Homo sapiens: one gene and its partners. The protein of the gene in region 3 interacts with the protein of the main gene of each other region in a biochemical or structural test. Each region holds a gene or a part of one and is shown on either strand. Other genes may lie near its edges.

Region 1 (7,843 bases), on a different chromosome or scaffold from region 3:
CCACCATGTCAGGCCTAAGTTTATTTTTTTGAGACAGGGTCTCGCTCTGTTGCCCAGGCTGAAGTGCAGTGGCACAATCTTAGCTCACTGCAGCCTCTGCCTCCTGGGTAAAAGCGATCCTCCCTCCTCGGGCTCCTGAGTAGCTGGGACTACAGGTGTGCACCACCAGGTCCAGCTCATTTTTGCATTTTCAGTAGGGACAGGGTTTCACCATGTTGCCCCAGCTGGTTTTGAACTCCTGACCTCAAAAAATCCTCCCACTTTGACCTCCCAAAGTGTTGGGATTACAGGCGAGAGCCACCCCACCCAGCCTTAGCACGCTTTTTGCCACACAGGGATATTGCCCCATTCAGGTGGGGAAATCAAGGCATAAAGAAGGGAAGTGGCCACGAAGTTCACACACAGCAGACAGGATTTCCAGCTCCACTTTCTGCCCCATGAAGTGTCAGGAAGCCACAAGGACCAACTGGGACAATGAGACTACAGACACTTCCTTCCTCTCCAGCAGCAGCCGGGAGGTGACTCAAGAGACCATCAGGAGCCGGGGGCGGCTGCAGGCAACACCCAAGCCCTGCCTGCCCGCCTGCTGCTCTGCTCACCCTGGGTCACCCTAGAAGGGAGCCTCGTGCTGAGTTGGGCCCTTCTTGATCTCACTCCTTTTCAGTTCCCTGCCTACTGTATACCCAGGCCTGTGGCTGTGAACCAGTATCAGTCCCTTCCTGCAAGGGGCCCACACTCCATCTTCCAGGGCCTGCTCAGTGCCCCTCCACCTTCCAGATGTTTTTTGTTTGTTTGTTTGTTCTGAGACAGAGTCCCTCCCACTCTGTCACTCAGGCAGGAGTGCAGTGGCGCAGTCTCAGCCCCACTGTAACCTCTGCCTCCTGGGTTCATGTGATCCTCCCACCTCAGCCTCCCGAGTAGCTGGGATTAGAGGCGCCTGCCACCATGCCGTTATTTTTGTATTCTTAGTAGAGACAGGGTTCCTCCACGTTGGCCAGGCTAGTCTCCAACTCCTGACCTCAAGTGATCCGCCCGCTGCGGCCTCCCAAAGTGCTGAGATCAGAGGCGTAAGCCACCGCGCCCGGTTCATTCTAGATGTTCTGTCCACTGCTGGGTCTTGACTGGGGCCCTTCCCTTCCACTGGACACACCAGTCATAGCAGTTTCTCATCAAAAAACCCCCTCCTCAGAGATCTCCCTGCCTCTTCCCCCTTCAATGCCAATTTCCTCATCTGTCAATCAGGGACAAAAACACCAGTTCCTGCACTGTGGGTTGCTGAGGACTGAGGGGGTTATCACTGGGTCACGGCTTGCATTTGAAAGGTCTCAACTGTATTATTACTGTTGTTATTTATAGCTGCATCCCACCCCCCATGCCTGGCACACGGCTGGCACTTCCCCAAATAACAAGAGGTAGGGAGCAGTCAGGGGGACCCCAGCCTCACCTTTCACAATGCTGGAGAAGGTGGCAGAGTGTCGGGACACAAAGACCTTGAGCTGTTCATCAAGGTTGCAGACGCCAGGATCGACATCCCAAGACCGGATGCCTGGTGGGAAGGAGGGATCAAGGCGGGAGTTCAGCCGGGCCCCCCAGCTCCCAGAATATTTCAATAATTAGCACCCCGTGGGTGGGGAGCGCCCCAGCCTCCTCCCTTCACTCACAGCTTGGAGACTCAGAAGTACCCAACACCTTCAGGTCTCGCTGCAGCTGAGCCAGGGGACCCAGAGCACACCTCATCATTTTACACACAAGATTCATCAGCAACAAAGCCTCCACCTCCTCCATCTCCACCTCCTCGCTGCTCCTATGCCCTGCCAGACCCGTTTCCACTCACCGCCCTTGCAACAGCTGTTTCCCCTGCCTGGAAGTCCATCCCCCTGCCGCCCCCACCTGTTCCTACTGGCCAGGGGGCCCTTCCCCCTCAGCACCTTCGGGTGCTAAGACTGACTGTCCTCTCAGTCCCTTGCAGCCTTCTCATCCTTCCTGACACCATGTGAGCTGGAAGCTTGTTCCATCTCCTCACTCGCTTTGGGTCCATCCCCAAACCAGACCTGTGTTGGCAGGGCTGAACCTGTCTATCATCCCGGCCATATCCCTGTGTCCACTGCCCAAAGGCCTGGCGCATAGCAGGTGCTCACTAAACACTCCTCAAGCACATGAACCGAGGTGCGTGTTCCTGTCCCATTTTACATGCAATGAAACGCCAGGTCCAGATGCTCCGAGGGATGGGGGATGAACACCCATCTCCACCCACGGGCGCATCACGCCCGCCAGTCCCACTGAGCCAAGTGGCTGCAGGTGAACCTGGCAGGTGCGCCTATGACTCACCTCCCTAGGTGCCAAATCCCCAGGGCAGGCCGCACCCGCCCACACCCCAATTAGCAGCTCCTTGTGAGGCAACAGAAAGCGGGCCCCGGGGCTCCAGGCCCAGCCTCCCCCATATCTGCTTCTCCCTCCGGGAGATCTCTATCTAAGCTGCTAAGACCTGGAGATCCAAAGCGACCCCAGGCCCTACCCCCGGGCAGGCCAGTCAGGCGGGAAGCGGAGCCGTGGTCCAACTGCAAGGGTCCCCAAGCCCAGGCCCGTGTCCCCTCCCCTATCTTCACCCGGAGTTGGGGCGGGGCAGCCCTGCCCAGCCCAGGCCCGGATGCCACTTTCTCCGCGGGCACCCACGGGCACCCCGCCTTTGCCCGCGTCGTGCGCCTAACGGTGAAGGGGACCCAGCCCCAGGCCCGCGACCCCCGCCCCGGAGCCCGGGTCCCGCCGCCGCCGCCGCCGCCGCCCCACCCCGCCGGCCCCGGGCCCAGACGCGCGAACGGGCCCGCCTCCCGGGCTCCCGCGGGCCCCCAGGCCAGCCCGACCTCTTTCGAGCTCCTCCAGGACGTAGGTGAGGAGCCCCGGGCTCCCGAACTCGCTGCCCACCACGAGGAGCAGTGAGCTCGGAGCCGCGGCAGCCCCAGATCCAGCCACCGCCGCCATCTTCGGGCCGCCCCGGCGTTCTCGGCGCCCGCCCCGCAGGCCCCGCCTCTTAAAGGGGCCGCACCGGAAGGGCTGAAGACCCCGCCCGGAACCACCGCATCCCCGCCCCTTTTTGTCGACCACTTACAGGCCCTTTGAGGTCGTGGAGAGCAGGGGATGCGGGCGTTAAAGGGGTTGGCCGACTCCTGGGTGTCCGCTTGGGAGCCGCCTCTCCCAAGTGACCATTCATTCATTTTTTTTTTCATTGAACAAGCTTTGATTGCGTGCCTGCTGCATGTAGGTCAGAACTCCTGCCCTCCAGGAACTCACATCACATGACAGTAGGCCGCATCAGAACCCGGTGCCTATGGATGCTCCCAGCTCTCTAGGTCAGGGCTTGAACAGAGAAAAGAAATCTATCTTGTAGGTAGGGCTTTAAGGGATGTGTAGGAGTTTGCCTTGTGGGTGGTGGGGCAAGAGCTGGTGAGGCAGAAGTTTACAGCAGGTGCAAAGTTTTAGAGGTAAGAAAGTACATGTGTGTTTGGGACACAACCGGAGCACTCTGGGCCTGCCTGGAACAGGGCAACACTTATTCTGCACCTCCTGTGCGCCAGGTATTTTATTGCATTAGCTCATTACATACAAGCACAAAGCGATGAGTTTTGTGCTTGTATGTAGGCACAGATGAGTAGGCACAGTTACTGTGGTCACTTTCAGAGGAAAGAAGAGGAAACTGAGATTTGGAGGGATGAAGTCACCAGGCCTGTAAGTGGTAGAGCAGGTTTGAACCCAAGTGGGTCTTACTCTAGATCCAGCCTGTGCAAGGGACTGCCTGCGTTGCGCACATGGGTACCTCTCTCTCCCCAGATAATCCTCTTTAGGCTTTTCTTTCCTTTCCTCCCCTCTCTTCTCCTCTCCTCCCCTCCCCTCCTCTCCTCTTCTCCCCTCCCCTCCCCTTCTCTCCCCTCTCCTCTCCTCTCCTCCCCTCCCCTCCCTTCCTCTCCCTCCCCTCCCCTCCCCTCCTCTCCCCTCTCCTCTCCTCTCCTTTCCTTTTCTTGAGATGGAGTCTCATTCTGCCGCCCAGGCTGGAGTGCAATGGCACAATCTCAGCTCACTGCAACCTCTGCCTCCCGGGTTCAAGCGATTCCCTTGCCTCAGCCTCCCAAGTAGCGGGATTATAGGTGTCCGCCACCATGCCCTGCTAATTTTTGTATTTTAGTAGAGATGAGGTTTCTTTTCTTTTCTTTTCTTTTCTTTTCTTTTCTTTTCTTTTCTTTTCTTTTCTTTTAGAGACAGAGTCTCGCTCTGTCGCCCAGGCTGAAGGGTAGTGGCGCGATCTCGGCTCACTGCAAGCTCCACCTCCCAGGTTCATGCCATTCTCCTGCCTCAGCCTCCCGAGTAGCTGGGACTACAGGCGCCCGCCACTGTGCCCAGCTAATTTTTTGTATTTTCAGTAGAGACGGGGTTTCACCGTGGTCTCGATCTCCTGACCTCGTGATCTGCCTGCCTCGGCCTCCCAAAGTGCTGGGATTACAGGCGTGAGCCACCGTGCCCGGCAGAGATGGGGTTTCACCATGTTGGCCAGGCTGGTCTCGAACTCCTGACCTCAAGTGATCCTCCTGCCTTGGCCTCCCAAAGTGCTGGGATTACAGGCGTGAGCCGCCGCGCCTGGCCCCCTTTAGCCCTTTGACCCATAGGGGCTACTACTTGACAAATCATCTTGCTTGGAACTTCTGGACAGTGGTCCATGCCCAGGAAACATTGAACCTCCTTTCTCAGGAGTGAGCTCCCTGTCTCCGGGAGTATGCAAAGAAAAGCAGAACAGAAATGGGAAAGATCTGGGAAGGCGAATCAGCCTCCCGCTGCCGTTTATTATCTAGGTTGTTCAGCCCAACTTCCTCCCTGGCCAGTGTGTAACAGCCACTGGCCACGTGCCGTCTACCATTCTTGCACTCCACTTCCTCTCTCTCTTTTTGGTTCTGGCATCCTTCCTCTATCCTTGTCCCTCCCCCTTGGCTCCCTTCCCTGTGTCTCGCCTGCCTGTGATTTCTTCTGTTATTGCTGTGAGCAGTAATAGTAGTGGGAGTGTCTGTGTCGGGCACTATCTCCCCTATAAGGCTGGAAACTTTTGGAAGCCTGAGGCCTCTCTGGGGCCCTGGCCTTGTGCAACACAAGGCTTGGGCATCTGAGAAGGGATATGATAAAGTCTTTTGGAATGGGCTGAAAGGCCTATTTGTCCACTATTCCTTCCTTCCTTCCTTCCTTGTGTATTTATGGATGGGTCCAGGATTCGAACCCAGGAGCTTCTGAATGGAAGTCTATCCACTTCCTTCTGCCCACGCTGTGAATTATGATTGTTGGTACTAATTCTTTTTTTTCTTTCTTTTTTTTTTTTTTGAGACGGATTCTCACTCTGTCGCCCTTGCCAGAATCATTCTGAGAGAGAGAGAGAGAGTCTTGTTCTGTCAAGCAGGCTAGGTTGGAGCACAGTGGTGTAACCTCGGCTCACTGCAAGCTCCGCCTCCCGGGTTCAAGGGATTCTCCTGCCTCAGCCTCCTGAGTAGCTGGGATTACGGTACCCACCACCATGCCTGGCTAATTTTTGTATTTTTAGTAGAGACATGGGGTTTCACCATGTTGGCCAGGATGGTCTCGAACTCCTGACTTCAAGTAATCTGCCCCACTTGGCCTCCCAAAGTGCTGAGATTATAGGTATGGGCCACTGCACCGGCCTGTTGGTATTAATTCTATTACTAGTTGGTCTTACAGGGCCTGAAGAAATGTCTCCACTAGGGGGATCTGATTTGGGGATGAAGGTCTCCCCCATTAGGTTTTTGGGAGATAATGTCCTGAGTACTTGGAGCCATGAGGTCTTCCTGTCCCAAAGCATTTCCCAAGCTTGAGGACTCTGGTGTGGGACATGTGGGGTGCATTTCCCTAGAAACTGAGAAGCCTCTGAGACCACTGCTCAAATCCCAGGCATGGGACTCTGGTCTCTGGTTTCTGGCCCAGCTCCATGACTGTTTCAAGGTCACCATCCCCAGAGGCGTCAGATGATGGCATTTGTGGGGAAAACGGAACCCTGAGCCCTCAGGACTGCTGGATATTCTCATCTTCTCCTGGCAATTATTTTCTTATTTTAACAGTTTTGTTGAGGTTTAATATAGACATGGTCAGGCTGGGTGTAGTAGCTCACACCTGTAATCCCAATATTTTGGGAGGCTGAGACAGGCGGATCACTTGAGGTCAGGAGTTTGAGACCAGCCCGGCCAACATGGTGAAACTCCGTCTCTACTAAAAATACAAAAATTAGCCAGGTGTGGTTGTGGGCTATTCAGGAGGCTGAGGTGGGAGGATCACTTGAGTCTGGGCTGTGGAGATTGCAGCGAGCTGAGATCACGCCACTGCACTCCAACCCAGCCTGCTTGACAGAATGAGTCTCTCTCTCTCTCTCTCTCTCTCTATCTACAGTGGTGTGATCTCGACTCACTACAACCTCTGCCTCCCAGGTTCAAGTGATTATCCTGCTCCAACCTCCCAAGTAGCTGAGATTACAGGCACCTGCCACCATGCCCAGGAAGTTTTGTGTTTTTAGTAGAGACGGGATTTCACCATGTTGGCCAGGCTGGTCTTGAACTCCCGGTGTCAGGCCAGCCTTGGCCTCCCAAAGTGCTGGGATTACAGGCATGAGCCACCGTGCCCGGCCTTTTTTTTTTTTTTTTTTTTTAAGACAGGGTCTCATTCTATCACCCAGGCTGAGGTGCACTGGCTTGATCTCAGCTCACTGCAACCTTGACCTTCAGGGCTCAAGAGATCCTCCCACCTCAGCCTCCCAAGTATCTGGGACTACGGGTGTGCGCCGCCATGCCTGGCTAATGTTTTGTATATTTTGTAGAGATGGCATCTCCTTGTTGCCCAGGATGCTCTCAAACTCCTAGGCTTAAGAGATCCACCTTGACCTCCCAAAGTGCTGGGATTACAGGGTCAGGTTACCCAGGCTGGAGTGCAGTGGCACAATCTCAGCTCACTACAACCTCTGCCTCCAGGGCTCAAGCAGTCCTCCCACCTCAGCCTCCTGACTAGCTGGGACAACAGGTGCAGGCCACCTCTGCTGGCTAATTTTTGTATGTTTTGTAGAGATGGGATTTTGCCGTATTGCCCAGGCTGGTCTCAAACTCCTGAGCTCAGGTGATCCACCTGCCTCAGACTCCCAAAGTGCTGGGATTACAGGCATGAGCCACTGCACCCGGCCTCCATTTTAACCATTTTACAGTGTACAAATCAGTGACATTTAGTGCATTTACAACGTCCTGCCACCCTCGCTAATATCTAGTTCCGGAATACTTTCATCCTCTTAAAAAGAAACTCTGTCCTAGGGCGGGCATGGTGGCTCATGCCTGTAATCCCAGCACTTTGGGAGGCAGAGGCAGGAAGATCCATTGAGCCCAGGAATTCAAGACCAGGCTGGACAGCATAAGGAAACCCTATCGCTCTATTCGGAATTTTTTTTTTTTTTTTTTTTGAGAAGGAGTCTTGCTTTGTCACCCAGGCTGCAGTGCAGTGGCACCATCTCAGCTCACTGTAACCTCTGCCTCCCAGGTGCAAGCAATTCTCCTGCCTCAGCCTCCTGAGTAGCTGGGATTACAGACATGCACCACCACGCCTGGCTATTTTTTTTATTTTTAGTAGAGACAGGGTTTCGCCATGTTGGCCAGGCTGGTCTTGAACTCCTGATCTCAGGTGATCCACCCACCTCAGCCTCCCAAAGTGCTGGGATTACAGGTGTGAGCCACTGTGCCTAGCCTATAATTTTTTAAATAAAAATTGAAAAAAAAAAAAGAAAATAAATGCTATCCTCAACAGCAGTAACTCCCTATTATGCACT
Region 2 (7,018 bases), on a different chromosome or scaffold from region 3:
GCCTGCTACACATATAACAAATATTTTGGGCTTGGTTGACTTGCTATTAATTGTATCATGCTATATAAATTTAGATTTATGCACCTTCTGACACCTAATATACTCAGCGGTTTTTTTTATGGAGCCTAATAGATGCTGTTACACATTAGGAAACACATTTATAACAATCAAATGGTCTTGACTGTAAGTTAGCAATCTAGTATCTAACTTTCTTGTTTGTGCTAACAGCCTCATCAAGGCAGTAGCCATGAGTTAAATGAATCATTACATTAAGAGCTGAAGTGTTAGTACCACAGATTAGTAGAGAGTGTCTTTTTTTTCTTTTTCTGGAATGGTTCTTAGGTGACTCATTAGCAAAAATTACATTTGAGAGACGTCCATATTTGTGATTTAAATATAAATTAAGGTAAAGTACATAAATGAAGTGGATATACTTGAGAATCAGAATAAGATTGTTAGAGTTGAATATTAGACCTTTGTTTTGTTTAATGATGAGATTGCGGAGCTACTTGCTAGAGACTAGGAAGTAGCATTCTCCTATTCCAGGTGGATTTTTTCCTCTCCTGGTTAAAAACAGATACTTTGTTAGCTGAGAAAAATCAGAACTCTTCCTGGTAAACATACAGCTCTATTTTTGATGCTAAATTCTGTGATTTTAGCATGGATAGATTTAAAACACTTTTAACTGGCATCATCCCAGTTTGTTCATATACCAGAGATTATAAACTACCCTTTTTCTCCCCTCCACAGCACAAAATACAGCTTCTAATTTGTTTTTCTGAAATCTGTGTAGGTCTTTTGAAGAAATGCTTCTTTATTAGAAGTGTTGCATGTGTGATTTTTGTTTTGTTTTGTTTTGTTTTTAGCTAACTGTGTGTCAACAGTTGTAGAATTCTTTTATTTTTTCCAGTATGTTATGATCTCTAATTTCTTGTTTTGGCAACTCTTTATTGGCTTATACTGTATGGCTTGAGGGAAAATTTTCTGGTAATATCCCACACTTTCTTGTACTTCCTACTAAAGTATGGAATGATTAACTAGTGGAGGTATTTCTCAGTCTTTTTGTATTAATAGTTATAATTTGCCATGCATTTTTTCGTGTATTTGGTCCAAACTCTGGTTAAGTGCCTTATTCCTAAAACTACCTAGTTCAATCTACCTGCTTCAATATGGTGTGTCTAATAGAACTAGTTTTAGGTTAATATTACCTGGTTTGGGTTTACTCCAGGATTTCTCTCTTATCTTGATTTTTGTTCTGCATTTACTGCCTTCCTGTTCCAGTATTTCAGTTACAATCTAACTGCTAGGAACAGATTGACACTGAAAATAGATACAGAATCCATGGTGATACATAATGTAGTTCAAGTTTTTAACTTTTCAAGCGACATGTAGCTATTTTTCTTTACATTTTTGCTATTTCTTTTTATTATAAATTAGCAAATTATATATTTATGGAGTACAAAGTGATGTTATGATTTGTGAATATAATGCGGAATGATTAAATCAAACTAATATATCCATCACCTTAAATACCCTTTTTAATGGTGGGAACATTTGAAATTTACAATCTTGCCAATTTTGAAATGTACATATACTATTAACTGTATTCACCATGCTGTACAATAGATACCAAAACAAAACAAAACAAAACAAAAACCTAATTCTTCCTGAGACTTTGTACCCTTTTACCAACATTCCCATATTCCCACCACCTCTAGCCTCTGGTAACCACCATTCTATTCTCTACTTCTATGAGTTTGATTGTTTTAGATTCTATGTATAAGTGAGAACAGGCAGTATGTGTCTTTCTGTGCCTGGCTTATTTCACTTATCATAATGTCCAAGTTCATCAGTGTTGTTGGAATTGACAGAATTACCTTTTTAAAAGCTGAATAGTGTTTCATTTTAAAGAATCCACATTTTCTTTATTCATCCGTTGTTGATGGACACTTAGGTTGATTCTGTAACTTGGCTATTGTGAATAATGCTGCGATGAACACAGGGCTGCTGACATCTGTTCTACGTATTGATTTAAAATATTTTAGATATATATCCTGAAGTGGGATGGCTGGATCTGTATTTTTACTGTTTCTACTAGCAGAAATGATCTCATTTGGGCATTTCTAAGCACTTTATAATCAACTCAGTTAATTAAGAGGACTGAATTCTCAATAGGAAGTCATTGTTTAAAACACATGCACTGACCGTACAGTCACTTTTTTTTTAAACAAAGGTAATTTTGAAATCTGCAATTGAATAATATTCTTGTATTAATGAACTTGCATAGCCTAACAGTAGTAATGTTCATCTGGATAACAGGTTTAGGGAACTTGTTTTCAGTGAGGAGGATAAGGACATTCTCAACTTAGCAAACTCTACAGTAAAGATAAGGTTTATTTATTTTATTTTTTATTTTTATTTTTTGACTCTCCTCTTTAGACCAGGGATAAGATTTATTTTTATTAAAATTTTGTGGAAGATTTTTTCCTTTCCAGAGTGTAGTTTTATAGTCTTTGGTTTTTGTCGTGAAGTTTTATATTTTGTCCTTATGTGTTTTGATTCCTTTTAAATAATTAATGGGTTCACAGAGGAGATTTCAAGTGATGAAGAGGAGACAAATGTAACTGCTCAAGCAATGCAGTCAAATAATGGAAGAGGTGAAGATGAGGAGGAGGAAGATGATGACTGGGATGAAGAAGTATTGGAAGAAACCGCGCTTGAGGGGTTCAGTACTCCACTTGACCTTGACAATAGTGTGGATGAATATCAGTTTTTTACACAAGCTCTGATAAGTATGTCTTTACTTCCCCACATCTTCTGATATTTTTTTTTCTAAACTCTTTCTTCATTTCTTCCTGTTTTGATATTTGCCCAAGATTGGTCTAGGTTCTTTTAAAAATTTTTTTGTTTATTCCTTATGATAGAAATCCCCAAACATACATACATGAAATGATAGAAATTAAAATAATGAAACACCTATCACCCAATCCTAGCAGCTTTCATCATTGAGAAGTAGCAGGGTGAGCCTGTATGTTATCCTTGCAAAAGTAATATGTGGAGTATCTGTGTATATTGTTCATCCTTTAGGCATAAATGGGCAAGCATTTTTATAGCAAAGAATGAAGTGTTTCAGGCATACATTGCTTAAAAATTGTGGCTAACAACCTACTAGTTATTCACAATCCCTAGAATGAAATTGCTGCCGTAAGAGGGTGACTTTTTACTTTGTAAGTAATTTGCCAATTTTATACAACAAAGAACAGTATAATTACAGTTACAGGACTCATAAATGATTCGGGGGGAGAAAATATTTGCCACATATGCATAATAGGCATAATGTACACAGTGTACAGAGGCCATCCTCAGATACATAAGACCAGTAACCTAGTAGAAAATGGAAATGGAAAATTTACAGAATAAAAACAAGCCAATGAGGATATTTAGAAAATTATTAATCAAATAAATTATTTTAAATCTCATTAATATAGATTATTTGTTTTATGGTTAGATAGTATTTCCATAGTTACATTGTAATTTAGTTCCACTGTGGGACATTTAAGATTGTTTCCAATGTTTTTACCATTATGAGGGTTATTAAAATGAACATCCTTACATGTAAATGTTTTTACTAATAAGGCAATATTAGCTTAATATATTGGCATTTTTTAGTGTTGCTACAAATAACATTAATGAAGAAAAAACTACCTAGATGTTCTTATTGAAATTCAGAGGAATTGGAGGCAGAGAACACAGGAAACTATATTCCAAAGCATGGGAAACGTAACAGCATAAACGTGGAGATGGAAATATGGAGGATGTGGCCTAGTGTAGTTCCAGACATGGGTGTGTCATAATCACCAAGGAGGCTTTTAGGTCTTGAGTAGGATCTCAGGAGATGTATTTTTAAAGATGCTTCTCAAGTGACAAGCAACTTTAAACCAGCATGTAGGGGCCACTGCTTAAAGACTGTGAAGGAACGCAGTTGGGCTGGGCTATAGTGGCCTTGAATTCTGGACTGAGGTGGTCCATCCCATTGCCCATTGGAATAGCGTTGAAAGTTGTGTTCTGAGGCGGTGACCTTTTAGATGTGGTAATTCACTTCAGGGGAGTTACCCGGTGATGGATGATGTGCAGAAAAAACTGGAAAGGACTAGATGTGGGAGCCAAGTGTTAGAGGTTCACTTTATTAATTTAGATGTATAGAGACCTGGAATGGGGAGGGTGACATTTGATGGAAAGCAGCATACAGATGAAAGACATTAAGAAAGAAGCAGAGCTTTGGGTGTGGAGAGGGCATGCTCAGGGATGTTAAGGATGCACAGTAGTGGACTGGGAGACTAATAGAACTGGTGAGATAAATGGAGAGATAGAAGGTTTGGGAGGAAATTGTTAAATTTGGTTTTAGTTGTGTTGAGTTTGAGATGAGCTATTCAAATGGAACAGTCCAGGAGGCTTAGGGGAAGGTTTTTCCTAGAGGTACAGATTTGAATCCTTGGGGTGGTAGCAATACTAAAGCTGCAGGTAGTATGAAAATTCCAGAGGAAAATGGTAACAAGTGAGTACTGGTGTTCTGGATTTTAGAGAACATCCATAGAAGACAGCAAAGGAGACAGAGAACTAGGCAGACTAGAGATTTGCAATGTCCTAACCTTCCTTTGATTTCCCACATAGCTGGGTACTAAGTGGGTACTCAGAAATAATCCTTTGTTGGCGTAAGTTTCATTACCTTGTGTGTGTTGTAGTACTGTACTCTTTGTCTCTTACTGTCTGGGATAATTTCTTTGTAATTTGATCATGTTACTACTTGTTCTGTAAATTAATAGTCGCTGTACCCTCCTGTCTTTTCCTCCCAAAATGCAACAGCTGTGCAGAGTCGAGATGCAGCCTGGTACCAGCTGCTGATGGCACCACTCAGCGAGGATCAGAGGACAGCACTGCAGGAGGTGTACACACTGGCAGAGCACCGACGGACGGTGGCAGGTCAGCCAGAGTAACCTCCAGAGTGGAGTGCATGTGTCAGAGTGCCAACAGACAGCCTTATTTGATGAGCCAGGTGGCACCTAAACACTGTTTTTGAAATTGTTAGAGACTTACCCTTTAAGATAATAAGGAATTGTCATTATTGTATGATTGTTTTAATCACTCATGATGTCTTAGCTTTGCAAAAACCTGCACATTAATATGTATTTCCTAGTGGTGTTCTCATTCACATTCTTATCCTATGTTGGAGGCAAAGGTACAAAGTAAGGGTTGGGATAAGTCTTGCCGAGGGAGACTTAATCAGTTGGATCACTCCCCTAAACATTTCAACCGTGGGCCAAAGGGACTTGACGAATTCTTGCAAGGAGCTTGTATTCCTGGAAATGGAATGCTCTCTATTTCTCATTGTTGGGCTTTATTTGACATTGTTTCTTGTTGTTGATTTTCAGTTTTTAAGCTGGAGGAATTACTCTGTGTTGATTATTGTAGTTACTTGTAGATTGTCATTGGAAAAGATTTTGTAGTTACAAAAAAATTTTAGTAGGAAACATGGCAAACTAGACATCTAGAGTTTAGAATGCTGGCTCTTCTGCATGGACTTAGATTTTCAGTTCTGTGCAGATTCTCAGTCAGCCTTCCTGATATGAGAAGTCTGGGCCCCCTTTCAGCAGTAGAGACAGTGAAGTAGAATCCACCTCTGAGACGTGTTTTCTTTTCACTCGTTTTTTGCAGATTTTCCGATGGTAGTGAACATACCACCTTATTGACATAGGTCTGTTATTCTTAGTTATTCTTTGGCAGGATAACTAATACTACCAGTCACATTCTTTCACAGTTCTAAGCATATAAAGAATCTGGCTCCTTTGAGTCATCTCCAACTTTGTCACCTTAAGCATTCTTTTTTTTTCTTCTCCCCTTTTCTTTTGAAAAATGCTAGAGGCAAAGAAGAAGATTGAACAACAGGGAGGCTTCACCTTTGAAAACAAAGGAGTCCTCTCCGCATTTAATTTTGGGACTGTGCCCAGCAACAACTGAAGGAAAGAACATCAGCTGACCAAATGTCATCGCTGCATTTTATTTCACAAGAGGAGTGTGAGGGTCAAGGGGATGAAATGAGGGGCTGCTTTTAGGGCCCTCCTGCTGTGCCAGTTACCATCTGGCATTAGGCAGCACTTTTATCTACTCTTTCCCCTTTGACCTTTGTCACCCTGAAATATATATTTTAAACAGCTACTGTAAGTATGAAATGAAAGAAAAACAATCATTGGACGGAAAAGGACAACCCATATGTTCCAAAGGCTGAATGCCCAAGGTTGTTTTAGAGGATTGGATAGACTTGCACGTCTCAGGTTTTTGCCATGCAGAATCAATGGATTTATGCGGATAACAGTGCCTTCTGTTGTACATGAATTATCAGAAAAAAATTTTTGGAGTGCATTGCAATTTTTTTTAAAGCATAAAACATATTTCTAGATACAACATAAACCTTGGTTATATGTCAACTATTCTGCATTTTACTCTGTGAATTTATTGTTAGGCAGTTACTGCAAGTCACTCTGGTTTCAAAATCTTCACGGCTCCCTCTGCTCACCCTGCTGCTGGGGGGCTTTTTTCAGGGGTTGTATTATAAAATATGCACTGGCTGTGGTTTTTCATAAGATGTTTTGTGGCTTTTTAAAGAAGTGTCTTACTCCCTCTTCTCTCATTTTTTTCTGCCTTGAAAAGGGGTGGTATTTCTTTTGGGGTCAACAAATACACATATCAGTTTCACTCCTAACCTTGTAAGTTCAGGACTCATTTTCTTGGCAGCAAGTGGCAGGGGCTCTTTAGTCACTGGAGTTAACAGTAAGTCTGAGTATATTCTGAATAATGTAATTATGCAATTAATTGATAATCATACCTAAAGCACATTGAACTTCTAAGAGACAGGTGCTACGTAAGCACACTGTCTTTCTGGATGGGGACTTGTATTTTAAATAACTTATCATTCCAGCTATGTTGGACTAGGGTCCAAAGCATTTTATAATATTTTTTTTTA
Region 3 (7,508 bases):
AACTACCAAGAACATCAGCATTTAATAGGTGAACAGAAGCAAGAGGAATCAAGCAAATGAGACAAATCCTAAAGAGAAGAGAACCTAGAAAAATGGTGTCATCAATACCAAGAAAAGTGTCTCATGAAGGGGAAAATGGAAGACAGAGTAATATGCCAGGTCAAGGCCTAAAAAGTGGATTTGGTAATTAAAAGAGGTCCTTTCAAAAAGTTAAATAAACATACATCTTACACATACATAAGTCATTAGAAGGACAGCTATCAATGAATGGCTCTCTGGTTGACATAATTAAGGGTGATTTTTAGTTTATTGTTCCCACCACCCAGGTTTTGCAACTGTCCCTCGAGGCACCTTAAGGAATAATTTTTGCAACTGTTCTTCAAGGCACTTTTGAAATAATTTTTCAAAAATACAATAAAAAAATCAATAAGATAATAATGGCCTTTGACAGCGGTGTGACTGCAGTGGATAGGAAAGTGAATGAAAAGTGATGAAATTAAAGGGACAGAGAAGTATGGACAGGGAAGAGACTGAGAAACTTCTAGAGTAAACAGAGTTCCAGGAAAGGTTCTGTGTTTCACGTGGGCAAGATCTGGGCATGCTTACAGGATGTCGGGTAGGAGACTATATACAGTGCTCAGAGTCCAGGAAAAAGAGGGAACAATCACTTCTTTATTGCCTGCTGTCACCTGAACACACAGTGGTGAACAAGACAAAGTCCTGCTCTCATATAGCTTACCTTCTACTAAAGAAAAAAAAAAAAACCAGAGAAATAAGTAATGATATCAGACAAGTGAGGTGTGCCACGAATAAATCTACAGTGGGACCGGCATGTTTTGGATTGAGTGTTGAGGTAAGGCTTCCCTGAAGAGACATTTGAGATCTGAATGATAAGAAAGCAACTTTACAAAGATAAGGGGGAAAGGCCTTTACAGATAATGAAACTGAGGAACAGACAGGTTAGTAAGATGGCTGAGATTACGCAGTAAGTAAACAGAACCCAGGTCTGATGAACACCGAGACCACCCTTTCTACTAAACTATGTTCTCTCTTTATTCAGTTCTCCTCAAATGCAACAGTGAAGATAAAAGAAAATGTGGACCTTCCCCTGGCCTCACAGAAATGCTGAGGATTAGAAAAATAAGAGTAATGGGCACAACTTTCTCAAAAGAAACTCTGAAAGCCAAGAGATGTATATAGTTCTGTGCTCAGAGGCATGATTTCGGAAAGTTAACTGTTCAAGCCCAATAAGAAAATATAGGCAGACTCCAAATTACAAGTACGCTCCATTCCAAAGATTATAACTAAGTTGTTAAGAAATCATAAATTATTTCCTCCACGTAATTTTATGGCGAGATTAGGTGTTCAGGCTGGTCCATGAAGGTCCGCATAACCGTAGATATTATGACTCCTGTAGTAACCAACAAAGCACTTACTAGGCATCAGGCCCTATACTAAGTGCTTAATACAGATAATTCTGCAATATTCCTAACACTACTACTACTCCCACCTTATAGCTAAGGAAGCTGAGGCCTGGAGATGTTAAGTAACTTCTCTAATGGCATAATGCAGATAATTTGAGGATAAAATGCAGATAAATCTGGAGTAGGCTGCAGTCTGGGCCCAGCCTACTGCAGATCCCTGGCTCTCAGTCCTTACGCGAGCTCTCAAAGTACCTTAATTTACAAGCATCAGTCTTTCAAAATCATTTTTTCTCCAATGCTAAAAGCTCAGCACCTATCTCCCCTTCTCTGGTGGTCAGAATACTATTAATAACCAAATGAACACTTTCACCAACTTTTCTTTTCCCCTCCACTACAAAAGTCTATACCAAACCTATCTCTGATAAACCTCAAACCATGAGAGCATTTATTCGCCTATCTGACACCCACTTAGAGTTTAACTTGCCTTTGCATCCCCAGATTCCAACAGAGTGCCTTGCATGTGCTCATTCATTCAAAGACACTTACAGGACGGGAGCGGTGGCTCACACCTGTAATCCCAGCACTTTGGGAGGCCGAGGCAGGAGGATCGCTTGAAGTCAGGAGTTCGAGACTAGCGTGGCCAACATGGTGAAACCCAGTCTCTACTAAAAGTACAAAAGTTAGCCTGGCATGGTGGCGCACACCTGTAATCCCAGCTACTCGGGAGGCTGAGGCAGGAGAATCGCTTGAACCCGGGAAGCGGAAGTTGCAGTGAGCTGAGATCGCGCCACTGCACTCCAGCCCAACTCGCGCAACACCTTCTTAAATGCTGAAGGAAAACTCCATTCAAGAGAACGCAGGCAAAAGCCCAAAGTGATCATAATCCAGCGTCCAGCTTTAAGTCATCCGTGGCTCACCCAAACTCCCAACCCACTCCTCGCCGCCCCATCCCTCGCAAAAAGCTAAATTTCCAATATCTAAATGCTAGGTGGTTACTGATCACCAACGGTGACCGCACGTGGGACACCACCCAAGCTGGCCAAGTGTAAGGAAAAGACCACCACCCGACTTCCCAAAGCAGTCTTCAAAGCCCCCCTCATCTTCGTTGACCATGGGTACCCCGAGGGCAGTAAGGTCCAGGCTGAAGTGGCGGGGGCAGGATTCAAGCCGGAGGCAGGCCATGCCCACAGCCGTGACCTTCTGAAGGCGCTTAACCCTGTCACCCGAAAACCCCTGGTAGGGAGCGTGGTGCGGAGCCCGGGGAGGCTAGGTCCTGGGGCGGGGAGAAGGGTGGCGAGCACAGGCAGGACCCGGTCCCTGCCGGCACCCACGACCCCGGGGGACCCTGGCGCCGCAGCTTGCCTGGAGAAAGGGCCTGGGCACTCACCCGGCCACGGGCCCGGCGCGAGCGGCGGGCAGATAGGAGGCGGCATGCAGCCGGCCCGGGCCGCCAGGGAGGAGGCGCAGGGAGAGCGGGAGGCGCGGGGCCGCCCCGGCACGCAGCAACCAACGCGCGGATCTCAGCAGGGCTGCCATTGCTCGAACGTCCCCGCAGCGGGAAGCACGCTCCGCCAGAAGGACAGGAGGAGCATGTGACCGCAGGGTAGCCTGGCGCGGCAGAGACCAACTGCCGGGCGTGCCAAATGTGGGGGGAGCGACGGATTGTTTTAGGTTGGAAGATGGAAAACCGCACTTCTCCGAGGACAGAAGACCCAATGTAATATTTACATAAACGATGTTGCTTGATTCATTATCGAAGCTTTTCTTTTCCGTCTTCCGTCTCCGATCTGGGCATCGTGTTCATTCGCTGCACCCCTGCACTCCTCTGTTGGTAGAGCCGCAAGAGGTCAACTCCTCCCAGGTTGGCGCAGAGGCTTGTGGGAGGCCAACTAGTAAAAATACCGAGAACTCTCGAGGAGAGCCGACTATGAAGATCCCAGGACGTGGGAAGGTTTCCCCCGCCCCCGAGTGCAGATGTTGCTGCTAACGTTCAGCCCTGACGCCATGTCCAATAGGAACGGCCCTTCACTCTCAGAAACGCGGGCCGGAGAAACCGTGGAGGTCTTTTGCACCTTGCCGTTTGCCTCCCAGGTTCAACATGATAGGATGTGGATTATCAGGGCCTGGGAACAGTGTAAAGGAACGCGCAGGTCCCCACCCTAAGCGCGTACGCGGGGCCTCGCTTTAGAAAATAAATGAATTCTACCAAAAATCCTATAGTTTTAAAGCTGGAATTGAACTGACTCTCTTCCCCAACCCTCCACCCCTACCGCGCCTCTCCCTTCAGTAAATGCACATATACATGTGAGAAGTAAAAGAACAATGTAATTAAGAGTCTCCAGCCAAATATGGGGAGAAAACTGGCAAGTTAAACCCATCGCTGGCGAAGTGGCTCACGCCTGTAATCCCATCACTTTGGAAGGCCGAGGCGGGTGGATCACCTGAGGTCAGGAGTTGGAGACCAGCCTGGCCAACATGGTGAAACCCCATCTGTACTAAAAATACAAAAAATTAGCCGGGCGTGGTGGCGGGCGCCTGTAATCTCAGCTACTCGGGAGGCTGAGGCAGGAGAATTGCTTGAACCCGAGAGGTGGAGGTTGCAGTGAGCCAAGATGGCGCCATTGCACTCCAGCCTGGGTGACACAGCGAGACTCTGTCTAAAACAAAACAAAAAAACCACGTCGCTGCCTTCACAGGGCTTACAGACTGGATCGGTTCCCTGTGCACACGTGGGAAGCTGAGAACAGCCTTCCACTCCCTCTACACCTGCCTGTCCCCTACCTATCACGAGGCAAACGCGGCGGGTATTTCCTCTGGAAGCCCTCCCACGGTCATTTCCGAAGTGACTGTTTATCCCACTGGACTCCTTATCAGTTAATCCCACGAACTCCTTATCAGTAGGGACTGTGATCTCTTATTGTAGGCCATACACCTACCCAGTGCCAGACACACAGTAGGTCTCATTAAATATGTGTTAAATTAATGTCTATTTTGAGATGACCTAGCTCACCTCTCCTTTGAGAGATGAGGGAACGAAGACACCCGCTCCAAGCCCCCAAAAGAAACAAGGTGAATTGATTGACTCTGGGTTATATTACTGAGCACTGGGAATACAAGTTATTCACCTATTCAACACGTATTTATTGAATACATATCCAGTGCCATACACTATTTGAAATCCTAGGAATACAGCAGAGAACAAAACAAACCAACCCTAGATTCTAATTAAGCTCTTTAAAGTTTAATTTGGGAAGACAAAAAGAACTGTGATGCAAAATACGCCAGGGTAAAGGGATTGAGGGTGTCATGGGGGGAGTTGCTTTTTTTTTTTTTTTCTCAAGACAGGGTCTTGCTCTGTCACCCAGGCTGGAGAGCAATGGCACGATCTTGGCTCACTGCAGCCTCGACGTCTGGGCTCAAGCGATCCTCCCACCTCAGCCTCCTGAGTAGCCGGGATTACAGGCCCAAGCCCTGGCTAATTTTTGTATTTTTAGTAGATACGGGTTTTTGCCGTGTTGCCCAGGCTGGTCTCAAACTCATGGCCTCAAGCAATCTGCCTGCCTCGTCTCCCAAAGTGCTGGGATTACAGACATGAGCCACGACGCCCGGAGAGTTGATATTTTAAATAGGAAAAACGTTGAACAGAAACCTGAAGGAAGGAAAGGAGGAAGCCAGGAGAATTTTCTGGAAGGAGAAAAAAAAAAAGAGTGGTTAAGGCTTAGAGAACAGCAAACACCAAAACCCAGAGGCAATAATAGGTGTAGCCTATTCAGAGAACTTTAAGGAGGAGGACTGTGTGGATGAGAGAAAAGAGCAGGGGGTAGAGAGCAGGGGGTAGGAGTAGAGGAAGGAGCAGGGGGTGGAGAGGGGCCTGGAGGTCAGAGAGGTAGTTGGAGGCCATATCAAACAGGGTGTTGTAGGTGGCCGTGAAGACTGACTTTTATTTAGACTGAAGACTTTTACTTAGAATGAGATGAGAAACCATTGGATAGTTTGGTGTGTTGCTTTTAAAGAGATGGAGTCTTGCTGTGTTGCCCAGGCTAGAGTGCAGTGTCTATTCACAGGTGCAATTATGACACACTACAGCCTTGAACTCCTGGGCTCAAGCAATCCTCCTACCCTGGCCTCCCAAGGAAGTGGGACTACAGGTGCATGCCACCACACCCTTTTGCTTTTTTTTTTTTTTTTTAAGTGCAGTGGCACAATCTAGGCTCACAGCAACCTCTGCCTCCCCGGGTCCACGCGATTCTCATGCCTTAGCCTCCCAAGTAGCTAAGATTACACGCATGAACCACCACACCCAGTTAATTTTGTATTTTTAGTAGAGATGGGGTTTCACCATTTTGGCTAAGCTGGTCTCTAACTCCTGGCCTCAAGTGATTTACCCACCTCAGCCTCCCTAAGTGCCGGGATTATAGGCGTGAGCCACGGCACCCAGCCACCCATTTGCATTTTGAAAGGGTCACTCTATCTGCTGTTTGGAAAGGAGATTTTAGGGGAATGGGGATAAATAAAAATAGACCAAAGAGAAGGCTAATCCAGAATAGAGATGCTAGTGGCTTGGATTAGAGGGCAGCAGGTGAAATGATGAGAAAGGGTCAGGTTCTTACTCTATTTAAATAGTAGAACCAAGGGGATTTACTGATGGATTGGCTGTGGATTGTAAGTCAAGAACGGCTCCAAAGGTTTTGGCCTAAACAACTAGAAAGATGGAGATGACTCTGATTTAAAAGGAGAAAACAAAGAGAAGCAGATTTAAAAAGTGAAATCAAAAATGATCTTCTAGAATATTAAGCTTGTGCCTGCTAGACATCCAAGCGTCAAATTTGAATAGGGGTTGGCTATATGACATACAAGTCAGTTCAGGGGAAAAGTCAGAGCTAAAGATACATTTGGGAATCTGCAGCTTGTACCTAATATTTGAAGCCACAGAAATAGATGAAAGCATCTAGGAAGAAAATGCAGATAGACAAGAGAGGGAGTCCAAGGACTGAGGCTTGTGTCATTTCAATCTTTAGAGGATGTATAGATGAAAATCTAGCAAAGGAAACTGAGAAAGAAGAGCCAGAGAGGCAGGAGAACTGAGCCCAGTGAGGTCACAAATACCTGAATGAAAGAAGTCCTTCCAGGAAGGAATTATCAATCACATACAATGCTACTGTTAGTTCCAATACAATGAGCATGCAACATTGACCATAGAATTTGTTGTTTGTTTGTTTGTTGAGAATGAGTCTTACTCTGTCGACCAGGCTGGAGTGCAGTGGCGTGATCTCAGCTCACTGCAACTTACGCCTCCTAGGTTCAAGCAATTCTCCTGCCTCAGCCTCCCAAGTAGCCGGAACTACAAACACGCACCACTATGCCTGGCTAATTTTTGTATTTTTAGCAGAGACAGGGTTTCACCATGTTGGCCAGTCTGGTCTCGAACTCCCGACCTCAGGTGATCTGCCCGCCTTGGCCTCCCAAATTGCTGGGATTACAGGCATGAGCCACCGCGCCCAGCCAATTATTGCTAATTTTCTAAGGCATGATAATGGCTTTGTGGTTACGTAAGAAAAAATATGTTTAGAGATGCATGTTGGCACTGGAATATGTAGAAGTAAATTAACATGATGTCTGGAATTGTCTTTTTTCTTTTTTTTTTTTTTTTTAATGAGGCGAAGTCTTGCTCTGTTGCCCAAGCTGGAGTGCAGTGGCGCCATCTCTGCTCACCGCAACCTCCGCCTCCCGGGTCCAAGCAATTCCCTGCCTCAGCCTCCCGAGTAGCTGGGATTATACGCACCCGCCACCATTCCTTCCAATTTTTGTATTTTAGTAGAGACGAGGTTTCACCATTTTGGCCAGGTCGGTTTTGAGCTCCTGACCTCGTGATCCACCCGCCTCGGCCTCCCAAAGTGCTGGGATTACAGGCGTTGAGTCACTGTGCCCAGCCTGGAATTGTCTTTAATATACTTCCCCAAAGAATAAAAGGCCGGGCACAGTGGCTCACACCTATAATCCCAGCACTCTGGGAGGTCGAGGCGGAAGGATCACTTGAGCTCGGGAGTTTGAGACCAGCTTGGTCAACATGGTGAAAACCTGTCT
Region 4 (7,907 bases), on a different chromosome or scaffold from region 3:
GGCAGACAATTTCGATTTTGTGACTTAATAGAATATATGCTGAACTTAACGGTAAGAAGGCACTTTACTTTTTTGAAACACTTGGTAAAATTGCATGTAATGCCTGGTAATGAAGCGATAAGTGATACCTTTACTCTAAAACACACTTTGGAAAAAATAAAATGAATCTTGAATTCCTTCTAAAGGAACTTCAATAAGGTGTGAGTAACTTAACCCTTTTGACACGCATTAACCACAGGGATGACACTGTGTGTAAAATAACCTTGGTGTTAACAACTGCGCAGCAAAGACCAATCTTTATTATGCCGTGGAGTCCAATATGAGAGGCGAAGAAAGGTATGTTTTAAAAAGGTGTTTAGCTCGGCCGGGAACGGTGGCTCACGCCTGTAATCCCAGCACTTTGGGAGGCCGAGGCGGGCCGATCACGAGGTCAGGAGATCCAGAACATCCTGGCCAACATGGTGAAACCCGGTCTCTACTAAAAACACAAAAATTAGCTCGACGTGGTGGCTCGTGCCTGTAATCCCAGCTACTCGGGAGGCTGAGACAGGAGAATCGCTTGAACCAGAGAGTCGGAGGTTGCAGTGAGCCGAGATCGCGCCACGGTACTCCAGCCTGGCGACAGAGCGAGACTCCGTCTCGGAGGAGGGGAGGGAGGTGTTTAGCTCAACTAGACAGCCTTTACAGCAATTCCGCCACCGGTGACAGTGAGAAACTGTCAGCTTGGGGAGGCCGCGCCACGACTGGACCCCGCCCCCGGGAAGCCTCCCCGGAGCCGAGGGCCCCCGGGCCTTCTCCTCGGAGTCGGGAAGTGCCTGCCCCCACGCTAAGTCTCTCCTGGCCACGCTCTGAAAGGCAAAAATGGCAAAAATCCTCCTTCAAGGCACCGCTCCCTCGACGCGCACCGCCACTCCGACTCCCTCAAAACATTGGTCGCAAAGCCCCCCCGCCTGGTCCTCCATGCTCAAGAATAGGGTGGCAAGGCAGGAAAAGACTCACACATCCCAGCCCCCGGCCCCTCAGGGCAGCCTCTGTGTTTCTAACTAAAAGCCTCCTACCAGGGGCAAGACCAAGTTCGGGCGCTTCCCCGCATGGAGAAACGCTGGCCCCACGGCGCCCGGCCCCGACGCGCTGGCCCTTTAAAGGCGCGGGCTTCCTGCGCCCGGGGCCCCTCCCACGCCACCGCCACCGCCACCGCCACCGCCCGCGCCCGCCCCCGCCGAGGGTCACACTTGAACTTTAGCTCGCCCCGCGCGGCCAGGCGCCGGCGCTCCGCAGGCGGTGGCCGCCCCTTCGCACGTGTCGGAGGCACCACCTCGGGCTCGGGACGCCGGGCCCCCGGCACTCGAGGCCACTCCGGAGAAAACCAAAACAAAGCAAAATGCGCACCGCCTCCAGAAACTGCCCGGCAGGCCCTGCACCGTCCCCGGCCGGTCGCGCCCTGCCTGTCCCCTCCACCTGCAGCCCGGTCCCGGGGCAGCGAGGCTCCGGGGCCCCTCGCCGCGCCCTCCCCCGCCGCGCCCGGCGGAAACAGCTCCGCGGCGCGGCCGGAGAGAACCCGCCCTCCCCCCGCGGAGGTCCGGGAGGGAAGGGGCAGCCGAAGCAGTCGGCGCGGGCCGGGGGTTGCCGCTCCCAGCGAACCCCTTTCTCCTTTCACTGGCAAACTTTTCGGCCTCGCTCTGACGTCCACTTCTTGGCGCACTTTCTTTACTTAGTTCCCCAACGAGCCCCTTACCGCGTCCCACGCGAACTCCTGACTGGCGCGCACGCACACCTACTGCCGTCCCCGACCGGACCCGGGCGAGGCCACCGCGACCACCGCTTCTCGCCCGCCCTCCTGGGAACGCGCTGCCCTCCTGCTCCGCACCTTCAGGCCGAGCAAACCTGCACAGCTGCGCCCTCGCCTGACCCACCGCGCCCCCAAGGTCCGGCCGCGCGCCGAGTCCACTCACCTTCCAGCCCGCCGAGCTGTTGCTGTCACCCTTATCCTTGAAGTAGGGCACGCTCTTGACCATCCACTCGTAGATCTGCGACAGCGTGAGCCGCTTCTCCGCCGAGCTCTCGATGGCCTTGGTGATGAGGTCGGCGTAGGACAGGTTGCCCCACGCGTTGCGGCGGGACGAGCTGCTCTTGCGCGGCTGCCCCGCGAGCGGCCCAGCGGCGGCGGGGGGCACCGGCGGGTGCTGCGACAGCGGCCCGGGCGGCGGGGGCTGCGGTGGCGCTGGGTGCAGGCAGCCCGCCTCCGGGCCCTGGAAGTCCCCGCACAGCCCCCCGGTGGCGGCCGCGGCGGCCGCCGCCGCCACCGCCGCCGCCACGGAGCCGGGCGCCTGCGGGAAGTCCTCGCTCTCCTCCAGCAAGCTCAGGTTGCTCATGAAGTCGGCGCTGACAGCGGCAGCCGAGGCCGAGGGCAGGCCCGCCGCGGCGTCGGGGTTGGCAGCCGCGCTGCCCGACGGCGCCGGGCTGGAGGTGGCCGAGTTGGACTGGCTAAACTCCGGCCTGGGCAGCGGCCAGGTGCACGAGCGCGGCCGGGGCAGCGGCTCGAAGTCCGGGTCGATCTCCACCACCTGAGGCGCCTCGGCCATGGTGACCCCCGCCCCTCCCCCAGCCGCAGGAGAGCCAAGAGGGGGAGAACGCAGCACTGGGGGCGGACGGGGAGGGGGCGCGAAGGGACGGTCCGAGATTTGGGGGAACGAAGCCGGTGCGGCGAGCGGACGGAAACTGGGAGGAAGGCGCGGCGGAGTGGAAGCGCGAGCCCAGAACTTAACTTCGCGGGGCCATCCACATCGAGGCTCCTCGGGGTCCGCCGCACGGACTGGACGGCCGGCCAGAGCCGCCGGGCCGGGGCAGAGCCTGCGCCGCGCTCCAGCTGACAGGGCCGCGGACGGAAGGACGGACGGACGCCGCGGGCCGCTTGCTCTCCCCAGCGGCGCGCCCGCTGCGCTGCTGCCTGTTGAATGTGGCGGCTGCGGCAGCGGCTGCTGCGACTACCAGGCCGCCCGACTTACGGGATCTGCCGCCGCCCCCCGCCCGCGGCGGCGCGCGCGCCGGCCCGCCCCTGACCGACAGCCCGCGCGGCCAATGGGCATGCGGCACCGCCGCCCGGGCAGCCAGTGGGCGCCGGGCTGGGTGGGGCCCGGTTTTCCACGGGGAGGCGGCGGTGGGCTGGTGGGGGGTAGTGGGGTGTTTTTCTCTTTCACACACTCACCTCCTTTTTTTTTTTTTGGATCTCTATTATTTTCTGGTAATTCTCGAGTGTTTCTGTGATTCTCTCGCCTTCTCAGTGTTTTGATTGCTAGGAAGCAAACCAGCGTGGAGGCGCCGGCGACACTTTGTTTACTACGGAGCAGCAGAGCCGAGTACTCGGGAAGCCCGGGTGGGAGGAGGCGCTCGCTGCTCCCTGACCTCCGCTGCGGGCCGAGCCCGGCGGGCTGGCAGGGCAGGGGGCCGAGGGCCGGGGGCGCGGGGTGGGCGGGCGGAGGCGGCCGCGAGGAATTCTACTCAATCGCTCCCTCCTGGCTCCACCCACGATGTCTTTGCTGAACGACGTGGGGAATCGGTGGGTTTTGTTTTGGTTTAATGTTTTCTTTCGCTGCGATCTGTCAAGTCCTCCGGCCCCCTCGCGAGCGGCACACGCCCCCCACCCCCGGCGCCGCGGCTCCTGCAGTCGAGTCCGCGCCGAGGGACCCTTCTCCGTGCCCACCGGTCCGCACCCCCGGGCTCAGCCTGTGCCATTCGGTCTAGCCAGAGGCGCGTCACCCAGCCGGCAGCCCCCAGCCGGATTCACTGTATTCTTGACCTTTTTTAAAATGCTAGAAATGAGGAACAGGGGCTCCGGCGCGGGGAGGAGATTATCTGGCCTCCCTGAACACACGAATCCAAAGGCACCCGCGACCGCATGCCCTCCGTGGGAACCTCTTCCCCTGGGCGGGAATCTCCCGCTCCGTCCACTAAGTCCAGGGCCGGCAGCGAAGGGCTCAGGAGCGCAGTTAGAGAGAACCAGGTCATTTTATTACTTATCCCTAATTAAATTTAGCTGTTTGTTACTTCTTTTTTATTTGCAACGGAAGTGATCGGGTGTTAAGTAAAAACGCAAGGGGGGCGGGAGATAGGACCAAAGCCTTGGGGCGCAGCCTGCCCCACCCCCAAATTCCTTGAGGCTACTTGCTGTGTGTGTCAGTCAACCCCCCACCCACACCCCACCTTTCCTCATCTGGGCTGCAGGTCCAGGACATCCTGTCAAGGATCAGTGGGGCCAAAGGTGGGAAGATAATGGCCCTTGTGTCTCAAGCAGAAGAAACAGTTTTCCAGTTTTGTTTTGTTATGCTTTTGCTTTTTTAGGAAGAATATGGAAGGCATTTCCTTTTAGAAAGATGGGACCACTTAGGATGGAAGATGGACAGTAGGGTTTTAAATATCTTGTCCAAAAGGACAGCTTCCAACTCTTGTTTTTTAATCCCTTTCTTTCTTACAAGTAATTCTGCAATGGAAAAAGTGGCATCTAGAGAAAATTAGTCAGTTGGACAAGAGGTTGTTGAAAAAATAAAAGAGAAAAGAGGGGAAAAAAGGAAAAATTAGGCCTCTTACAAAAGTTAAAAAGATTGAGAGAGATTATCTTTCTTCTTTTATATTCTCACTATCGTCTCTCTAGTCCGGGCTCCTGTTTCTTCATAATCTATTTATCACAACAGCTTCTTGCTGATACTAGGCATGGGTGGGGTGGGGAGCGTGAGCCGGATGGATTGGGGACGGGCGGGGACTGGTTCCCACCCTGGTCTTGTGGTCTCTTCACGTTTACTATCAAATTTGGACAGTCTGGGCCTCCTCTGACAGCCGCTAGGGGACCTCAGTAACTCAGATGATGAGCTCAAAGGCAGGCCCCCAAAGTACAGCTGTTGCTTCCCCCCACCTTTCCAATTACACTCTGCAGAAGCAGCCCCCGATCCAGACAGCCGCACCCTAAAAATAGGCGGTGCCCTACTGGATCATTCTTGGCAAAGGAAGCCAGCTTCAAATTTGGCCTTGCCTTCATTTCTATTCCGGTTTTTCAGGGCGTCAGAGAATATTTATTTGGTTAAAGGAGTCTTCCTACAGACTTTCCCCAAATCCTTGAAATCTTTGAGGCTCTCCTGCCCAATTGTTTCTTCAAATGTCATAGTTTACTTTTATTTGGTCTTTCTTTAAAAAAATTGACGAGGCAGGCACAGAGAACCTATAACACCAATGTCCCTGACACATAGGTCCAAAAAATTAAAAATATATATTGAAGGGTTTTTACAGCTAACCACCACACTGTTGTATCTAAATATCAATTTACTGAACCCCAGGATGTTGGTGAATATTTCACTTGTTTCCAGTCTTTAGCTATCATAGACTATTCTGTAAGAAATAACCTTGCAGGGAGGCCGAGGCGGGCGGATCATGAGGTCAGGAGATAGAGACCATCCTGGCTAACACGGTGAAACCCGTCTCTACTAAAAATACAAAAAATTAGCCGGGCGTGGTGGCGGTCGCCTGTAGTCCCAGCTACTCAGGAGGCTGAGGCAGGAGAATGGCGTGAACCCGGGAAGCGGAGCCAAGATCGCCCCACTGCACTCCAGCCTGAGCAACAGAGCGAGACTCCGTCTCAAAAGAAAAAAAAAAAAGAAATAACCTTGCATAACTTTAATTTCATATCTGTACAAGTATATATATAGGAGCAATTTCCAGAAATGGGAGTCACTGGGTCAGCAGGTATACCCATTCGTAGTTTTGAAAGGCACAGCCAAATTGTGCTCCACAAGGGTTATATCAAGCTAAACTGTCTTTTCCATTAGACCCACAGAACGTTAAACTTGAAAGTAAACTCGGAGATCACCTTGGTGACCCCCTTTAACTTAGAAAAAGAGAGGTGCAGAGATGCTGATTTGCCCCAGCGCACATAATAAAAGTGGTGATGCCAGGGCTGTAGCTCTAATTTTTTGCTTTCCCATTAGTAACCTTCTCAAAACACAGATGGAAAATTATAAATATCCTGTAATCCCACTATAGCAATAACCATTATAACTTCGTAGTGTATTTCCTTCCAGTCAACCCGCAGATCTTAGTAATCATAGTTAGGTGAACTCCACTGAACCAAATAAAGGTTTGAATTAAAAGAACAAATAGGCCGGGCACAGTGGCTCATGCCTGTAACTCCAACAGCTTGGGAGGCCGAGGCAGGTGGATCACCTGGGGTCAGGAGTTCCAGACCAGCCTGGCCAACATGGTGAAACCCCATCTCTACTAAAAATACAAAAATTAGCTGGGCGTGGTAGCAGGTGCCTGTAATCCCAGCTACTCAGGAGGCTGAGGCAGAAGAATCCCTTGTACCCCGGAGGTGGAGGTTTCAGTGAGTCGAGATCACACCACTGCTCCAGCCTAGGCGACAGAATGAGACTGTATCTCAAAAAAATTTAAAAATTAAAAAAAAATAAAATAAAATAAAAGATCAAGAAAACAGACATAAAACAATGATAGTGGTAATAAGATAATGAAAGAAGAGATTACAAAAGAAGTTTTTCTGTTTTTTTTTTTTGTTTTTTTTTTAGTCAAAAATGTAAATGTTGCCATCTCTGAAGGGTGACATAGTATTTAGGTCATCCCTGGTTCTGCTTAAGGGAAAAAGTTCTTTTCTCCTTCCTTGTGTTTTGTGGTTGCAGCTTGCTTTGAAGGTATTTTCTACTGATTATCACTTAGTTGCTGCATGTGTCTGAACTGGGAAGAAATAGGGAAGAAAAATGTCTCATGTCAAGTAAGGACAATTAAAATGAAAAAGGAAATTTATCCTTACAAAGTCCATCTCACAAAACTATGTGATGTTCTTTTCTGTGCCTGGTTTTCAGGGTAACTATTGCCTCATCCTTAACAGGAAGACTGAGGGATGGTTCCCTTTGATCAATGCCCAGGCAGAAATTTCTACATTTACCCCTCACCAACACATGATAGATCTCGGGTTTAAATTTAAATTTTTACTTGTCAAAATAGATAATTTAAGTTCCATTTAATGAGTAAGTGAAAAACTTGGATGCTGATTTTTCAGTCAGGGCACTTCACTTCGTATTTCACATTCCCTTTCCCCAACAACTGTCCGTTTCCAAAACTTTGTCTGAATTATTAGGAGGTACTGCTGTCAACCTGAAACAGCCTTTCTTCACTTAGCCCATAGAAAGTAATAATCTGAAAAAAATATATATAGCCTCAGGTCTTTAAACCAATGTCCTGAAGGCTGGCATATTAACTGGTAGCTGTAGTAAGATTAGAAGTAACCATTCGTTTCTCTTAAGGGATAATTTCCTTGGGGTTTTGTCACTAATTCCACAAATATCTACAGAGCACCTCCTACATATATGTCAGGTGCTGTGCATCTTAGAGTCCATTGTTTTGATGCTAAATTCCTTGAGCTCCAAAATGGTTTATTTTCCCTGATACGATATTTGCTATCAGAGTTAAGAACGCTGTTCTTTTCTAATCAGCAATGCATAGTGACAATATTTATTTGGAGGAATTACACAAAAATGTTTTTGATAGGTAAAAGAAATGCTAAGGCTGGAAAAATTGAAATATAGTCACCATTTTGGAGGAAAATAATGATATGAAGTGGAAAAGATTTAAAAATGCACCATCCACAGGCACTGGGAGTATGAGTTCCGACCACTAAGCCTCATGGTTGGGATGATCTTATTACAAATGGACAAAAGACGGAGACTACCTCTGGTTATCTGTCTACTAACCTGTAACAGAAGGGAAGCAGTGAACCACTTCTTTTGTCAATTCTGTTGTGAAGGGCCAGTGTTTGTCAACTTCAATAAACTATTCCTTCACTTTAGGTATTAGTGAGAGACTACTTGTGGGTCTCTGCAGGAATACTAACACATATTTGTAGATAACCT

The links.
Region 1: the proteins of LRPPRC (region 3) and MAP1S form a complex in vitro, tested with the Homo sapiens proteins (one study listed by BioGRID).
Region 2: the proteins of LRPPRC (region 3) and IPO8 form a complex in vitro, tested with the Homo sapiens proteins (one study listed by BioGRID and IntAct).
Region 4: the proteins of LRPPRC (region 3) and FOXO1 form a complex in vitro, tested with the Homo sapiens proteins (one study listed by BioGRID).

Annotation. Positions count from the first base shown.
Region 1 is NC_000019.10:17,714,639-17,722,481, reverse strand, and holds the start of MAP1S (microtubule-associated protein 1S), read right to left. Parts: upstream 3,003-7,843; 5' UTR 2,980-3,002; coding exon 2,862-2,979; intron 2,327-2,861; exon of another isoform or gene 2,092-2,326; coding exon of another isoform or gene 2,052-2,091; intron 1,547-2,051; coding exon 1,445-1,546; intron 1-1,444. UniProt on the Homo sapiens protein: Microtubule-associated protein that mediates aggregation of mitochondria resulting in cell death and genomic destruction (MAGD). Plays a role in anchoring the microtubule organizing center to the centrosomes. Binds to DNA. Plays a role in apoptosis.
Region 2 is NC_000012.12:30,629,857-30,636,874, reverse strand, and holds part of IPO8 (importin-8), read left to right. Parts: intron 1-2,588; coding exon 2,589-2,792; intron 2,793-4,863; coding exon 4,864-4,980; intron 4,981-5,917; coding exon 5,918-6,015; 3' UTR 6,016-7,018. UniProt on the Homo sapiens protein: Involved in nuclear protein import, either by acting as autonomous nuclear transport receptor or as an adapter-like protein in association with the importin-beta subunit KPNB1.
Region 3 is NC_000002.12:43,992,988-44,000,495, forward strand, and holds the start of LRPPRC (leucine-rich PPR motif-containing protein, mitochondrial precursor), read right to left. Parts: upstream 3,003-7,508; 5' UTR 2,961-3,002; coding exon 2,812-2,960; coding exon of another isoform or gene 2,787-2,811; intron 1-2,786. UniProt on the Homo sapiens protein: May play a role in RNA metabolism in both nuclei and mitochondria. In the nucleus binds to HNRPA1-associated poly(A) mRNAs and is part of nmRNP complexes at late stages of mRNA maturation which are possibly associated with nuclear mRNA export.
Region 4 is NC_000013.11:40,663,631-40,671,537, forward strand, and holds the start of FOXO1 (forkhead box protein O1), read right to left. Parts: upstream 3,012-7,907; 5' UTR 2,583-3,011; coding exon 1,953-2,582; intron 1-1,952. UniProt on the Homo sapiens protein: Transcription factor that is the main target of insulin signaling and regulates metabolic homeostasis in response to oxidative stress.